Regions from separate parts of the Homo sapiens genome. Here region 2 is linked to region 1. The links come from fine-mapping of genetic effects on gene expression. Tissue or cell type: esophagus mucosa. Region 1 holds a variant in brackets; the other region holds the start of a gene. All regions are shown on one strand. Distances are between the middles of the regions.

Region 1 (8,000 bases):
GGGTCGGAGCAACTTTGAGTTATGGGGGTGCCCTGGTGGGGCCACCCTGGAATCAGGGGTGAGTGGAGTGACCTGGGTGGGAGTACAAGCCATGGGGGTGGCCTCTCAGCACCCTGTCCACTGCAGAGGAGATCAGCGACCTCACAGACCAGGTGAGTCTCAGTGGGAAGAGCATCCAGGAACTGGAGAAAACCAAGAAGGCGCTGGAAGGCGAGAAGAGTGAGATCCAGGCTGCACTGGAGGAGGCAGAGGTCAGGGGCTGGCTGCAGGGGTGGGTGGACACTGACCTGCTGCTCCACTGGCCATCCCCCCCCCCCACCCTACCCTGCCTGCTCTGTATCCACAGGGGGCCCTGGAGCTGGAGGAGACCAAGACGCTGCGGATCCAGCTGGAGCTCTCCCAGGTCAAAGCAGAAGTGGACCGGAAGCTGGCAGAGAAAGACGAGGAGTGCGCTAACCTGAGGTGTGTCCATCCTTCTCCCGTCCCCACCTCCCGAGAGCAGAAGGGGAGGGAAGCAGTGTGTACTCTGCTCTCTAGTCTGTCCCTCCCATGGGACTTTGAGGTCCGGGTTGCTGTCTCCATTCTAGCTGTGAACCTCGGAGATGCTAAAGGACTTGCCCAAAGTCACACAGTGGGGGTGGAGCCAGTCAGTCCACCTCTGTCTGCCTGGGCCTCACTCTTGTCCATGAACTTGCTCTGATGGGCCACAGGCAGTCACAAGAGACTTTAAATCGGGGAGGGGTGACTCATTTGTTCTCAAAATGGGTTCGTTTCCAACGGTCCTTGGGCATTTGTAAGGACAGGTATGCCCTTACGAGACCCCCTTTCATGCCACCCTCCTCCCATAGGCGCAACCACCAGCGAGCTGTGGAGTCCCTGCAGGCCTCCCTGGATGCAGAGACACGGGCCCGCAATGAGGCGCTGCGGCTCAAGAAGAAGATGGAGGGTGACCTCAACGACCTGGAGCTGCAGCTGGGCCATGCCACCCGTCAGGCCACAGAGGCCCAGGCTGCCACGCGGCTGATGCAGGCACAGCTCAAGGAGGAGCAGGCAGGGCGGGACGAGGAGCAGCGGCTGGCAGCTGAGCTCCACGAGCAGGCGCAGGCTCTGGAGCGCCGGGCCTCGCTGCTGGCTGCGGAGCTGGAGGAGCTGCGGGCTGCCCTGGAGCAGGGCGAGCGCAGCCGGCGACTGGCAGAGCAGGAGCTTTTGGAGGCCACCGAGCGCCTCAACCTTCTGCATTCGCAGGTGGGGACAGGAGTCCCTGGGGACAGAGCAGGTGCAGGCCTGCTGGCTGGCTGGCTCTGAGACTCCTCTTCCCCTCAGAACACAGGCCTCCTAAACCAGAAGAAGAAGCTGGAGGCGGACTTGGCCCAGCTGAGCGGGGAGGTGGAGGAGGCTGCACAGGAGAGGCGGGAGGCTGAGGAGAAGGCCAAAAAGGCCATCACTGATGTGAGGCTGGGCAAGGGCTGTGGGGAGCCTGGGACAGAATTGCAGAGGGACTTCCCTGAGGCTGGGCACCTGACCAGCTCCTCCTCCCCAACAGGCGGCCATGATGGCCGAGGAGCTGAAGAAGGAGCAGGACACAAGTGCACACCTGGAACGGATGAAGAAGACGCTGGAGCAGACGGTGCGCGAGCTCCAGGCCCGCCTTGAGGAGGCAGAACAGGCCGCCCTCCGTGGCGGGAAGAAGCAGGTGCAGAAGCTGGAGGCCAAGGTGTGTGCAGCCCCTCTAGTCCTTGGCGCAGGCAGGGTGGGTGACCCAGGGGTGGGCTTGGCATCAGGCTGTCCCCCTGCCTGCAGGTACGGGAGCTGGAGGCTGAGCTTGATGCAGAGCAGAAGAAGCACGCCGAGGCCCTTAAGGGCGTGCGCAAGCATGAGCGCCGTGTCAAGGAGCTCGCATACCAGGTGGGCGACAGGGTCTCCCTGGGGAGTGGCCCTGGAGCTGGCCCAGCCCAAGCAAGCCCTGAGTCCCCCTTGCCCGCCCAGGCCGAGGAGGACAGGAAGAACCTGGCTCGCATGCAGGACCTGGTGGACAAGCTGCAGAGCAAGGTCAAGAGCTACAAGCGCCAGTTTGAGGAGGCGGTGAGTGCGCTGGGGCCTGGACACCTGGACCGGGCACCCCAGCTCTGCCCCAGGGTCTGTGGCCAGGTGAGGCATCAGCAGCAGCTCCACCCTCCAAGGTCAGTGACCCAGAGGGAAGAGAGAAGCTTCTAACATCTCTGGGGAGATCAGACCTAGCTCCTTCTCATGGAACAGACCCCATGTGCTTTCCCCTGGCCAAGGCTGGGGCTGCCTCTGAGGGGTGGGGCAGGCACAAAAAGGCACATGAAGTTGGTGCGTCCCAACTTCCTTATTCCCGCTGTGGTATTGGTGAGGATGGACAGTGGCAATAGGAACAAAGTTGAGAACCAGGAGGAGCTAGCTCCCTTCTTGGACTGGGGCAGGGACCAGAATAAGCATCTCAGTCACCCAAGCGGAACCAAGGCCCTGTGTGTGCCCCCAGGAGCAGCAGGCCAACACCAACCTGGCCAAGTATCGCAAGGCCCAGCACGAGCTGGATGATGCGGAGGAGCGGGCAGACATGGCGGAAACCCAGGCCAACAAGCTGCGGGCACGGACCCGGGACGCCCTGGGCCCCAAGGTGAGGAGTGGCAGGGGCATTGCTCTCTGTGCAGGGGGACTGTGGGGGCTGACAGGTAGTACTGCTCACTCAGCTATCCCTTTCTCCTCAGCACAAGGAGTGACGGCCTGACCCCCTGGGCTCTAAAGAGGAATGTCTGCTGTTGCACATCTGGCTGAGGCCACCTGCCCCGATCCTGCCATCTCTGCATCGCCCCCTGCTGCCTTCAGCCTTCCCTGGGCCCTGAATAAACACCACAGCCAGTTTCCTTCTCATTCTTTTCTTTGGGGTTCAGGAGGAAAAACACAGTCCTAGGGACAAAAGCCAGGTCCACAGCAGTCATTTTTAAAATAAAGTTATTTAATAGTCTCCATTTAATTGGTTTATTTGCTGTTAATAAATTGGCAACACAAGGAAGGGCCCCATGTCCAGGCTCAGGCAGGAGCGGCTGCCTCAGGCAGAGGCAGGGCAGGCACAGCTGCCCCGTGCCCCAAGGGATGGAGGGAAAGGCCCCTCACTTCTGGGAGAACCCCCTTGGATGAACACAGCGGCCAATGAGCAAACAGAACCAGAGGAGCTACAGGAAAATGAGGCAGAGGGGCAGGCTTGGGGGAAGGCAGCATTCTCTGGTACCCACCACCCCTGCCCAGGGCTCAGAAGCCTTTGCCTGGGTCCAAAGGCCAGGGACAAGGGAGGCTTGGCTCACAGATGGGGGGTGGGGGTCACCCATATCTTCCTCCCCACTCTGGGACTGACTGACAGCCAAGAAACCGGCAGGAGCTCACACAGAGCTAATGCTAAATGTCCTCTTACCTCTGGGTGGCCCTGGGCCCCAGGGTTCTGAAGGAAAGGTGGGCATGGTACCCTGTCCTCATTATGGGGACTGAGGCTCTCCATGACCTAGGGCCCTCAGACCCAGGGGGACCAAGGGCTTCTAGGACTTCCCTCCCACCAAGCCTGTACCCAAAGACCTGGGGCAGGCAGAGAGCAGCAGGGAGGAACGGGAACAGGGCAGGGCGTGTGGCATCGTACCCACGCTCACCCACACTGGCCCAGCAGCCTCCCGAGGCCTGGCCCAAGGTCACTCCTCAGTGAAGTCCCTGTCTATGTCCATGTAGGGCTCCTCAATGTAGCTAACGAGAGCAGAGGGTGACTGCCGGTCCGGGTTCAACAGGATGGACACTGTCTCCTTCCAGTATGAGAAGCTGATGCAGGAGCTCTGGGCAAAGAGGGAGGGGCTGGGGGGCGCCTGGAGGACCCAGGTCAAGCCCAGCACCGGGACACCCCTCTGAGAGGCCCTGGGTCCGCGGCCCACCCATCACCCCCTTGAGGGTGGGGCACTCACGTTCTCTAGGCAGGTGCTGTCCTTGTCCTTGTGCAGGTAGTGCTGCTGCCAGAAGCGCAGCAGGTTGTGGAAGTTGTTGAGCAGGAAGCCGGGGTACTTCTTGCTGTGCTCCATCCGCTGCAGCAGCCGCAGGTACAGGGGCAGCCGCTCTTTCCGTCGGGCCAGCATCAGGATCACCAGGCTGGTGTTGAGGCAGCTGACGTTCTCCTGCAAGGCCACAGGCCCACAGGGTCAGGGGCTGGTGGGAGCCCCAGTGGCCCCTGGTGAACCTGGGTAGCCATCAGGCAGGGAGGAGAGTGGCCCCAGGCCTCGGGCCACCCACAGAGCTCTCCCTGCACAGAGGTGAGATAGGACTGGGGGAAGGGGGCCCCCAGCAGCCCCAGTTTCCTGACTGAGCACCTTCCTCTTCCCCACGCCCACCTCCCACCCCACCTGAGGCAACAACACCTGTCCCTGTCCAGACCTGGGCTCAAGCATCACTCCTTCCGGAAGGTCCGTCCCAGGCAGGGCTGGGTGCGTGTGTTGGGGCGGTTATCCCGCTTCAGAAGTGCCATTCAGCACTAGCCTGCGCGCCTCGGTGGGGAAAGAGTTCTGCCCCACTCACCATGCACTCCCACCTGGTGCTTCACCTCAGAACGGAACCAAAGACCACCTCTGAGAGGTGCTAAGATCACCCTCACTCTAGAAAAGAGGGGCAGGAGGCTCAGAGAAGGGAAGGCTGCATGACTATTCAGTGAGGGAGTTGGGCAGCCTCAGGTCCGATTCCAAAGCCCAGCAGGGCAGAAGGTGTGAGGGACGTGGACATGGGGGAGGCGGGGAGAGCACTGGCCTGCAAGTCAGCCTGTGACCTGAGGGCACTTGCGAGCCCTCCTTCCTTAGGCCCTGTCTGTACAATGGGACACTGATTCC[T/C]CCTGAGCACAGTCCTCAGAAGAGCTGGGTCTCCAGAGACGCACTTCTGGAGTGGGGGACAGAAACCTGCTGGGCACCAGGACAAAGGAAGTGGTTTCCAATCGACCTTCCCTGCTGTGTGTCTGCCGGGGCCTCTCACCTGGGTCAGCGTCTGCACGTGGATGATGTTGATGAGGCGGAAGAGGAAGGACATCTGCGTGGGCACCTGGGATATGTAGGCGAGCAGGCGGCATTCAGACAGTACCTCGGCAACTGTGGAGGGAGGCAGGGGTGCAGCAGGTCAGGCTTAGGCCCAGTGGCTGGGTCGCCCAGGCCTTTCGTGGAGCCCCGCTTGGGTCCTGACTCTGAAGCTAGGAGCTCATCATCAAAACAGCTTCAACGAAAGCTGACTGTGGCAGAAAGAAGGACCTCCAGCTGTCCTGCTACCAGGCAAAGCCATGTTCTCAGAGTGCCCAGGAGCACCCCACCTCATCCTCCAGAACCAAGCTCAGGGCAGCTCTCCCTCAGCCCTCCCCAGACTGGCTCCAGACCCGTGCCCTCCATATCACACACAGAAGAGTTCCCTCCACAGGAAGATGGATCCATGACGCTGCATTAAGAAAAACAACGCAAAAGTTCCACTCCTTCTGCAGAGGTCCTAGCGCAACTGGTTTTCCACACCAGCTCTCAGGTGAGTCCGGCCCAGTGCTGAGACCACAAGGCACAGGTTCTGCTCCGTCCACTAGTGTCGGAGCAACTGCTTCCCGCACAACTGGGAGGCAGGGCAATAACCGAAGGTACCAAAATCTGTGTGGCTGTTCCCCTGAAACAGACCCTCTGGGGCAGAAAAAGGAAGCAAACGGCTAAATTACCAACAACCGGGATACTTCTTGCTATCAATGACAGTGACCGTGACAAGGAACAAGTGCCTGACTTTTTGGGGGTGTGGGGGGGTCACAAACCCTCAGGAGAATCTGCTGGATGCCACAAGCCCTCTCCTAGGAAAAAAAGGAAACGCGTGCGCATACACATGGAAGTGCGTTAGCAAGTCCAGGAGGGTTCAGATGCCTGCTGCACCACAGGGCACCTGCGATGCCACGCACAGCACACTGAGGACGAGGGGGCCAACTCATCGTGCCAGGCAATACCAGCCCAGAAGAGGAAGGTCTTTTTCTGGTTTTCTTTGCATCTTGCTAGCAACAATGGATTTTCACCTTATTAAAGTGTTGAACAAGGCAGCAAAGCCAATTGCCCTGGAAGCCGCCACCTTGAGGCCGGCCACGTGGGCATCTGGTGCAGCTCCCTCAGTCATTCTTGTCTCCCTGCTGGAGACAGGGTGTCTGATGCCAGCATTCTTACCCTGCATGACTTGCCTTGACAGCCTGCCTTTCATGTACCTTTCATATCCACCTGGTTTTCAAATCGGTCCAGGGACAGAGTGACACAGCGCACCAGCATGTTGGAGTCCACCAGGGAGCTGTTGATCTGCTTCAGGAATACCTGGAACTATACAGAAACCAAGCTCACAGCAGGCAGTGGGCTGCTGGCCAGGTATGGCCATGGCCCGGGGGGATAGTCACTACAAGGGGCATCAGCGACCTCTACCAGCCCCACTGCTTCAGATAGGAAGACAGAGGCTCAGATAAGCTGAGGGACCTCCCCTCACCACCCAGGTACTAAGAGGCACTCCCCGGAATTCAGCACAGATCCGACACTCTCTCCAGTGGTTTTACGCTCAAGGGTGCTGGATTCCTTTAATTTTTACTTTTAATTTTACTTCAGCTAGCCTGAGCTGGGTTTCTGTCACACACACTCGGTGAGCCTAACACACCAGGCCCAGTCCCTCCCTACAGCGGCTCCCACCGTGGCACCCACCATGCTGCGTCACGGCAGGCGCACAAGCCACCCATTCCCACCCTCACTCCCTACCCACAAGCAGCCCCGGTTTTCATCCCTGCATTCCCAGGGTCTAGCACAAAGCCAGACAGAGCAGGTTCCAATGAATGTTTGCCAAAGACTGCCCAGACTCCCCCGTCGTCTCTAACGTAAAACCTGTGCCTAAAGCCTGGCAGACCAGGACTCCAGGTGAACTTCTGGACAACCCAGCACACTCCACAGAGCCCTGGGTTAACTTTACCTTTGCATCGGTGTTGATATATTTATTGAATCTCTTGAATGCATCAACGTTGAACTTCATCAGCTCCCCCAGGAGGTCAAAGTAACTCTGGAGCACATCCCTTGACTTACACTCGCTGTCCACAATGCAGTAAAGGATGTGCTGGGTGAGGAGGGACAGGGTGAAGGTGTCAACGTGGCTGCCCCCACCAGGGCCTGGCATGGAGCTCAGACCATGCATTGGCTTTGAGCAAGCATCCTGGGGATGGAACTGGCAACACTGTCTAGATTCTTGTCTGAGGATGCTGGTGGCTCCAAGGACAGGACCAGGCCTGACAGACCTCACCAGGAGGTGGAGCAGACTGGGAATGCAGCACAATCTCTCCCCTGCCCAGGGCGTACAGCTGAAGCCTGTGACCTGCTCTGTGGTCACCAAGATGGCCGGGGTGCTCAGCTCCTAGGTGAGGGGAGCTGTCATCACCAGGTCTAAAACACAGGCCACTGCCTAAGCACTGAGGTCATTCAAGTAAATGAAGGACAGAATTTAAAAGCAAAGGACACATTTTGACCCCATGGTTTGTCTTTGTGTTTATGAACGAAATTGTTTAAATAGAGTTTACACCAAAATACTGAGTTTTCATCAAGAGAATAAAGCCAATTTACTCCTTTATAAAGTTTTCTACATTTTCTTGAAGTTACATTGATTTGGATCAATTCTTTTCCACATGGATTTTATAATTCGTGGGTCAGTTTCTTGTCCATATGAAAAAATCTGAAAGACCAATTATAACTTTGGCCATTCTGCTCTAAGTTTTACTTTTTCTGAAGACCATTATTCAATAAAGGAAAATTAACTTTTAGTACAAAATATCTTCAGGGTCAAAATGCCTTGCTGGGTAACCAAACTGTCACCCTCCTGCATGGCCTGGCCACCCTCTAAACCTGTCACCCCGTAAGCACCCATGGGGAACCCACAGTTGGAAACCCAGGGCAAAATCTAAGGCAGCCTGCACAGGCATTTGGAAGTCACGA
Region 2 (8,000 bases), 270 kb after region 1:
GTGCAAGGGGTCCTGTCTGGGCAGCACAAAGTGAACCATGTCCCAGTTCTCCCTGAAGCCCCTCTGGTTTCCTAGCACCCGTAGGATGACAGGCGGACCACTCCAGGTCCCGGGTGCCCCCCTCTGCAGCTTCTTACTCCATGACTCAGCCAAGCACTGCACCCCAAACCTCCAGGTGTGCCCACCTTGCCTCCCTTGCCACAGTGCCTGTGCCCTCCTTTTCACACTGCCCCAGAGCAGGTGCCGGAAGTGTCTGGGAGTGGTGATGCTGGGCTGTATTTCTGCAGATTACACCTATTTCTACAAGGGCCGGGACTACTGGAAGTTTGACAACCAGAAACTGAGCGTGGAGCCAGGCTACCCGCGCAACATCCTGCGTGACTGGATGGGCTGCAACCAGAAGGAGGTGGAGCGGCGGAAGGAGCGGCGGCTGCCCCAGGACGACGTGGACATCATGGTGACCATCAACGATGTGCCGGGCTCCGTGAACGCCGTGGCCGTGGTCATCCCCTGCATCCTGTCCCTCTGCATCCTGGTGCTGGTCTACACCATCTTCCAGTTCAAGAACAAGACAGGCCCTCAGCCTGTCACCTACTATAAGCGGCCAGTCCAGGAATGGGTGTGAGCAGCCCAGAGCCCTCTCTATCCACTTGGTCTGGCCAGCCAGGCCCTTCCTCACCAGGGTCTGAGGGGCAGCTCTGGCCAGTGCTCACCAGGGCCAGCAGGGCCCTAGGCTGGGGTCGTACAGCTGAAGTGGTGGGTGCATTGGCCTAGGCTGAGCGTGGGGCAGGGAATTATGGGGGCTGTGCCCCAGGGTGGGTGTCTGGCACCCAGCTGCCAGCCTTCTGTCCTGGGCAAACTACTCCCTACTTAAGGGAATAGGCCAGGCTCCATCCGGAGGCAGGGACCATGCCAGGAGGAGCCCCTGTGGTCACGGCATCCTGTGGTGTCCATGAGGTACCACAGCTCCACTCCTGGCTGGAACCCAGCACCCTCTGTGGGAAGCCAGCACTAGCTCTCATCCCCCATCCGGGAGATACCACCAGTCCTGGTCCCCTTTTGCCAACACCTGCTGGTCAGATGTCCCCCTACCCCCACCCCACTGTCCTCCAAGGCTACAGGACCCCTGCTTCTGACACAGTGAGCAACAAGCCTGGGTTTCCCTGCTGGCAGACGGCAGATCCCTCAGGAAACCTGCTCCACTTGTCAGGGTCTCTTCGGAGACCCAGGATTTAGGGTCACATGCTGCAGGCAGGGCTGTGGCCCAGCTGGGTCTGACAAGGACCCAGCTGTCACATCGTGAATATTTAAATGTCCTGTCACTACTGTCCCATTTTGCAAAGGCTGCTTGAGGCTTTAGGTGAACTAGAGGTGACTGTCTTGGTGATGAGGCCAGCATAGCGGCCCTCCCCCAGGCGACAAGGACCAAGGTGCTGCTAAGGCCACTCTAGCGCCCAGACACCCCAGTAGCTGAGCTCTGCTCCTATGGCTACAGAGCTGGGGCAGAAGCTGACCCCATTTCTGGAGGAAGATCCGAGTTTGTGACCGTCCTCCACTCCCCTCTATTGTCACTGTCCCCAGCTTTGCTCCAGTCTGTCACTTGCAGCCTGGAGCTCAGCCTCACCAGTTAGGTGAGGCAGAGATGGCTGCAGGGCCAACACTGGCAGAGCCTGGGAGTCCTTCGGAAGGGGACCAGGGCGTCTGAAGTGCTCAGTGCCCCCACTACTCTGAGGCCGACTCCAGCTACTCTGAGGCCGACTCAATCTCTCGGCTGGAAGCAGTGTTTTCCCAGAGCTTGGCCCTTGCTGACCTCGCTCACTGGGCCCATCTTCCCACACTGCTCTTAGAAGGACACCCCTACCGGTAGCAGCCCCAAGCTGAGGGGGCTCCCTTTTTGACCTTCACTGGCCCGCCCTTCACTGTCTCCAGCAGGAGTTCCTAGGGCTTGGCCTGCCTTGCTCCACAGTACGGCGGAGGCAGCCCTGCTTGTCACTGAGGAGCCCTAGACAAGGCCAATGGGTTCATCAATGCCCACTGGCTCTCTGCCAAAGCCAAAAAGGTGTCAGGCAGTCTCCAGCGTGCTGGCCGGGTCTCGGATGCCACCCCTGCTCACTGAGCCTGCATGGGCCTTGCCCCCGACCCTGTGGTCTCTGGGATTGGGGTCGGCTTACCCTGTAGCACAGACAGGGACTCCTGCTGCCCTGGGAGCTGTCTCAAGCAAAATCTCTTGTCCCAGAGGTGCCCATGTGGGTCCGCTGTGTCCCCTGTCATCATCCTTGTTTTTTCTCATTTTGGCCAAGGGCAGGCTCCCTGGGACAGGCAGGGAACAACTGCGGAGATATTAGTGATTCATAGGTTTGTACAGTGTTTTATACTTTGCAAAGCACTTTATTAGCTCACACCTGTCCACTCACATGAAACTCGTGTTAGGCCCTGGGAGGCCGACGGTAACTCTCACCGTGCCCTCAGATGAAGCACAGAGAGGTTGTTACTTGCCCGGGCCATCCAGTGGGCTGGCTGGGTCTTGTGTCCCCATCTGTGGACCCCTCTAGGGTCTGAGATGAGATGAGAAGTGTCTCCTGTATCCACCTCTTCCTGGCCTCCCTTCCCCCACTTCCTGGTCCCTGTCCACTCCTCAGGTTGGTGCTCTCACTTCTTGAAAGCTCTAGGCACCCCCGCCTCCCGCCAGGCTCCCCATTGGCTCCTGGCAGGCCAGCTGAGAATGAACAGGAGATGGAGGCAGGCAGCCCAGGCTGCAGAGGTGAGGGATGTGGGGCCAGGCCCAGAGGGCTCAGCCTAGAGGCTTCCAATCTCAGATTCTCCTGCCTGTGGTCATCTGTTTGTCCATCACCCCAGGACAGGGCAGACAGAGGGGCAAAGCACTGGGGGCCCCAGAGCCTAGCTTCCCCTCAGCCTGGGGGACATCACAGCATTTCAGTGTCAGTCACATTTTAAACTGATCAGCCTTTGTATAATGTTTTTTAAATCATTTCTAAATAAAACAGAAATACAGAGTGTGTCATTTCCCTGGGATGAGGGAACAAAGATCAGGTTCCAAGAGTAACCTTAGGACGCTCTGGGAAGAGAACCGGGTCCTTTGGGGTGTCTGGGAGCTGCCCACCCATCTCCTCTGCCAGACCGGCGGTCAGATAGCCTCCCTCTACAACAGGCTGGCCCTGGGGGCCCAGGGTTATTGGGGTTCCAGGAACACAGCCTGATGATGCCTCCTTACGATCCAGGATGGAGAGCAGCCCCCCCAGGAGTATGGGGAGGGTCACTGTGGCACGGGCTTCTCCATGACCTGGGACATGACCTGGGACACATAGTCAAGAGCACGGTTATCAGCAATACAGATATTAATAAAAGGCAGACGAAGTCAGGAGGTCAGCAACTTTGCGGGCTTACCAGGAGGCCTGTCCTGCCTCTGGAAGCCAGCGACAGAGAGGGATGCCCCCGACCCAGCCAGCCGGAGAAAGGGATGGGGTGGTCACGAAGGTCTGAGCTGGGTCTGGGTGTAGGCTGGGAAGCAGGCTGGGGTGTAGACTGCGAAGGCGGCCCTGCCGGGACTTCTTTCCAGTCCCCGGCGACCTCTTCGAATTCTCTGCTATCTCTGGGGAGCCTCGGGTGGGAGGGGGTGTAAGAGACGCAGGGACGTGGGGAGAGGAGACAAGGCAGGCAAGAACCACAGGGGACGGCGGACAGACGGGCGACATCCTGCGGAGGACGCCGTCAGTACCAGGAAGTGCAGGCGATGAGGAAGCGCACGTCGTCCAGCGGCCCCCACGGGCTGGGCTCGGGCTGGGGCTGGGGCTGGGGCTGGGGCTGGGGCTGGGGCGGATGCCGGGGCTGTTCCGGGCCCTCCGGCGCCGCAGGCTGGGGCTGGGGCTGGGGCTGGGTTTGCGCAGGCTCCGGGGCGCCGCGGCCGCCGCTTAGCTGAGCCCCCATGGTCTGCAAGAAGAGAAGCCCTTTAAGGTCTGGGTCGCCGGGACACCCCGCTAGGGCCCCGCCCCGGCTCTGCCCTCACCTCTCGCAGCCAGACCCGCGGGTCTCCCGGAACCCACCTCGGCGTCGGGAGGAGCTGGCGCCGTGACGCCACCACCGCGTACCGACCTCACCCTCCGTGCGTTGGAGCGGAAAGAAGGGACTCGACCCTGTGCTTCGGGGCGGGGCTCCGCGACCGTCCCCCGCCAATCCCGCCCCAGCGCCTCAAGGCCCCGCCCCGCGCAAGGGGACGGAATGCACCCCAACAGCCTCCAAGACGCCCAGGCCAGGAGGACGCTGGGAACCCGCTGCCCCGCCCCACGCCCACCCAGGAAAAGACCTGCAACCTCCATCCACCTTAGTCAAAGAATGCCCCGAAGCCAGATGCCCCAGAGCTCTCACAGGGGACTTGCCCAGCTCAGGGGAAAATCGGAACGGACTCTCTGCCTTTCAAGGCCAGAGAAGACCGGCGCAGAAGTCGGGTGAAAACTGTGAGAACTAGACCGGGCGCCGTGGCTCACGCCTGTAATCCCAACACTTTGGGAGGCCGAGGCGGTGGGTCGCTTGAGTTCAGGAGTATAAACCAGCCTGGGCAACACAGTGACTTCGTTTCTACAAAAAAATAAACGAGGCGAGAGGATCGCTTGAGCCCAACAGGTCAAGGCTACAGTGAGCCATCCTTGCGTCACAACACTCCAGCCTGGGTGACAGAGGGAGACACTGCCTCAAAAAGAAAAAAGAAAAAAGGAGAACTGTAGTGGAGAGTGTTTCTTGCCCCAGGATGAAGCCTCACATCCTGATGGTAGAGGAGAAGGGAATGGCGTGTGTGGAGGTGGTGAACTGGGTTGGGTGTGTGTTGTGTTCATCCCACCCTATCTTCCCAGAATGCTGGAACAACTGGAGAGTGCAGGGATTGTACACAGGCTGAGGGCCCCAAACATCACATTCAGAATGGCCCGGAGGGAACTGCACTTTAATGGGGTGGCACAGGACAGCAGAACCCTCAGCCAGCAGCCACAGGGCCTGCCAGCCAGCACAACAGAGCAGGTTTTTGCAGTAATGATAGATCCAGGCGATAAGCACAGGTGGAAAAGGGTTGGGTGCCCAGCCCCTCAGTCCCAGTGAGCTCTCTGCCACCTCCCTGCCAGCATCCGGTACAGATTGGGCGGAATGTGGAGAAGGTTGGCCACAGTCCAGAGCCAGGAGCCCATGGAACAACTTGGAAGGTGACTCAGGTGAGGCTGAAGAGAAAGGAAAGCGCACGGTCAGTAGCTGTTTCACAGAGCCCACCTCACTCTCAAGTGAGGTGCCTGCCTCAGCCCTCATCCCGGGACCAGCTCTGACAAGCTGCTCAAGCAGCTACTGCTCTAGTATCCTAGCCCTGAAAAACCACAAAGATGAGGATTAGCAGATGCTCAAGAAATATTTTTTGAATATGCTGGCTCTTATCTGCTCAGCAGTGTACAGATATGCTCTCACACTCGAGAAGCTACCAGAACAAACTGGTAGGCTCCCATTCTAGATGACATCTTTTCCCCATACTCTCAAAATGCAAGTTAACCCCCAACCCTGAGCAGAAGAAAGGAGAGGCCCCAGGTACCTGTCAATGAGGGAATCCCGCATGCTGGTGGCAATGGTGCTAGGCTGGGCTTCATTCAGCTTGAAGACACTCTCCACCACTGACAGCTCTGTGCTGGTTGTGTCCAGGCCACAGAAGGCACACCAGTCATTCACCACCATCCCAGCAGCAATCACCTCACTGCCTCGGTTCACAGTCCCCGCCTGCCAAGGGATGGGCTCAATGTGAGTCACGGCACCAAATTCTCTCCCTCCTCAATGAAGACTCTCCCCAAACCCTGCTCCTCCCTGACCTGCAGCCCCAGTCCCAAACTGTGGCAGGTAATGACCCAGACTCCCAAACACTAGGCAAAAGGATCTGCCTCGGGAGACGGGGTTCAGAGGACAGGAATGCTTACCACAAGGGGGACTTGAAGAAGAGAGGACAGCTCATCCTGGTCTTCAATTGAAGTCTTGGGATGCACCAGCCCTCCCTGATTGCTGAAGACACAGTAGCTTCCTACTAGCACCTGGTCGGCCACTGTCTGTCTGAAGACTTCCACCTTGAGCACATCTGCCAGAATTTCTTCTGTCTCCTGTCAATCAAAGATATTGTGTTCAGGGCTCAGAACTTACAGCCCCAGAACCAAGGTTCTCCATGCCCAGAAGCATCCAGGCCTTGGCTCCCTGAGCCCCTCATTTCTCCTCTGTACCTCATATGAAAGCCTCACCCAGAGAAAGGAGGAAGTACAGCTTAGAGCAGAGTCAAGGGCAGCTGTGAAGCCCCTAATATTCATGCATGCCCTGAACAGCTGGAGGCTGGTCTCAATATCACTTCTTTCCCCTCTCACCCACAGTCAAAAGTTCAACAGTCAATCACCTATCCTGGCCCAGGATGCAGGACTGGATGGTTCAATCTCCCCAATCATGAAGGATTCATACCCTCCCCAGCTTCTTTCTGACACTTGATAAGGCCTCTGTTATCACTATTCCAATGAGTACCTGAAACTCAAGAGCCCATATAGAAAAACCACAGGAGAGACCCCTAATTGCTGCCTGTTGGGAAAGAACAGTGGCTAACCACTGACTAGGATGGCCCTGTGACTCTTGGGTCAAGTTGGGCTGCCTCACCCTGTCCAAGTCTGGGTGGACCAAGGCCACGTAGTCATTGCAGGTGGTGACATTGCCCAAGGCTGAGAGCCGCTCCTCCACCCGCCTAATCTGCACTGTGTCTGGGAGGCTGTTGCGAATGTGTTGCAGCTCCTGGTCGGTGGTATTGTTGGGTACCAGGAGACCGTGCCTGTTCCCTGGAGAAACCCAAATTAGAGGGTGAATACACAAGATGCCTGCTGAGCCCTAGGGGCTGAGGATACCACTCAGCCCAGCCCAATCAGCTTTCCCAGGAAAGCTTTAGGCCCAGAGCCCAGCCCTCCAACCCACTGATCTGGAAAACACCCAGGGCAGGCCAGAGACCACCCAGGAATCCCAATAAATCCTGCCTACTTCACCATCACCAACTGGGAGGGAAGCTGAGCTCTTGGCATTAGCTGTATATTTTGCTACTTAAAAACTGAGCTGCCGGGCGTGTTGGCTCACGCCTGTAATCCCAGCACTTTGGGAGGCTGAGGTGGGCAGATCACAAGGTCAGGAGATCGAGATCGAGATCATCCTGGCTAACACGGTGAAACCCCGTCTCTACTAAAAATACAAAAAATTAGCCAGGCGTGGTGGCGGGCGCCTGTAGTCCCAGCTACTCGGGAGGCTGAGGCAGGAGAATGGCGTGAACCCGGGAGGCGGAGCTTGCAGTGAGCCGAGATCGCGCCACTGCACTCCAACCTGGGTGACAGAGCGAAACTCCGTCTCCAAAAAAAAAAAACAAAAAAACAAAAAAAACTGAGCTAACACTACACACATAGCAGAATGGCTAGATTATTATTTTTTAAGGCAGAGTCTCACTCTGTCACCCAGGCTGGAGCGCAGTGGTGCGATCTCAGCTCACTGCAACTTCTGCATCCTGGGTTCAGGTGATTCTCCTGCTTCGGCCTCCTGAGTAGCTGGAATTACAAGTGCGTGCCACCACACCTGGCTAACTTTTTGTGATTTTGTAGAGATGGGGTCTCACTATGTTGGCCAGGCTGGTCTCGAACTCCTAACCTCAGGTGATCCGCCCACCTCGACCTCCCAAAGTGCTACGATTACAGGTGTGAGCCACTGCCCCCAGCCAGAATGACTAAAATTTTTACAAGTCATCAATTCCAAGTGTTGGCAAAGATATATGGAGCAACTGAACTCTCATACTGAGACAGGAGTGTAAGTTGGTCAATCACTTTAGATAATTATCTGGCATCATCTGCAACTACTACTAAATAGTCACATAACCTGTGACTCTGCCATGCCACTCTTAGGTATCATATACCCAGTAGAAATATGTACATGTGTTCACTAAAAAAACATAGCAGCAC

Evidence for each region. PIP is the estimated chance that this variant, and not a neighbour inherited with it, causes the effect.
Region 2: MMP24OS starts here. The variant in region 1 is fine-mapped to the expression of MMP24OS in esophagus mucosa (GTEx, PIP 0.96).

Annotation. Positions count from the first base shown.
Region 1 is chr20:34,999,445-35,007,444 of GRCh38, forward strand. MYH7B (myosin heavy chain 7B) reads left to right here. Exons shown (of 45, transcript NM_020884.7): 37 at 127-251; 38 at 347-462; 39 at 849-1,245; 40 at 1,324-1,449; 41 at 1,544-1,714; 42 at 1,801-1,905; 43 at 1,987-2,082; 44 at 2,504-2,641; 45 at 2,733-2,993. The coding sequence ends at 2,744. It overlaps TRPC4AP (transient receptor potential cation channel subfamily C member 4 associated protein), which reads right to left. Exons shown (of 19, transcript NM_015638.3): 15 at 6,991-7,131; 16 at 6,251-6,359; 17 at 5,014-5,126; 18 at 3,966-4,172; 19 at 2,960-3,839. The coding sequence ends at 3,702. Among named protein-coding and RNA genes, the nearest start is that of MIR499B, 13 kb to the left of the region's middle. The variant T/C (reference allele first, on the strand shown) is at 4,875.
Region 2 is chr20:35,273,985-35,281,984 of GRCh38, forward strand. It overlaps MMP24OS (MMP24 opposite strand), which reads right to left and starts at 4,138. Exons shown (of 2, transcript NM_001355003.2): 1 at 4,025-4,138; 2 at 2,368-3,948. The coding sequence starts at 3,945. The coding sequence ends at 3,730. MMP24-AS1-EDEM2 (MMP24-AS1-EDEM2 readthrough) reads right to left here and starts at 4,138. Exons shown (of 15, transcript NM_001355008.2): 1 at 4,062-4,138. MMP24 (matrix metallopeptidase 24) reads left to right here. Exons shown (of 9, transcript NM_006690.4): 9 at 288-3,014. The coding sequence ends at 625. EIF6 (eukaryotic translation initiation factor 6) reads right to left here. Exons shown (of 7, transcript NM_002212.4): 4 at 6,670-6,845; 5 at 5,958-6,134; 6 at 5,582-5,763; 7 at 4,934-5,222. The coding sequence ends at 5,213. RefSeq lists enhancers at 1,466-2,073, 2,074-2,681, 3,268-3,367, 3,488-3,657 and silencers at 3,788-4,007, 4,098-4,317.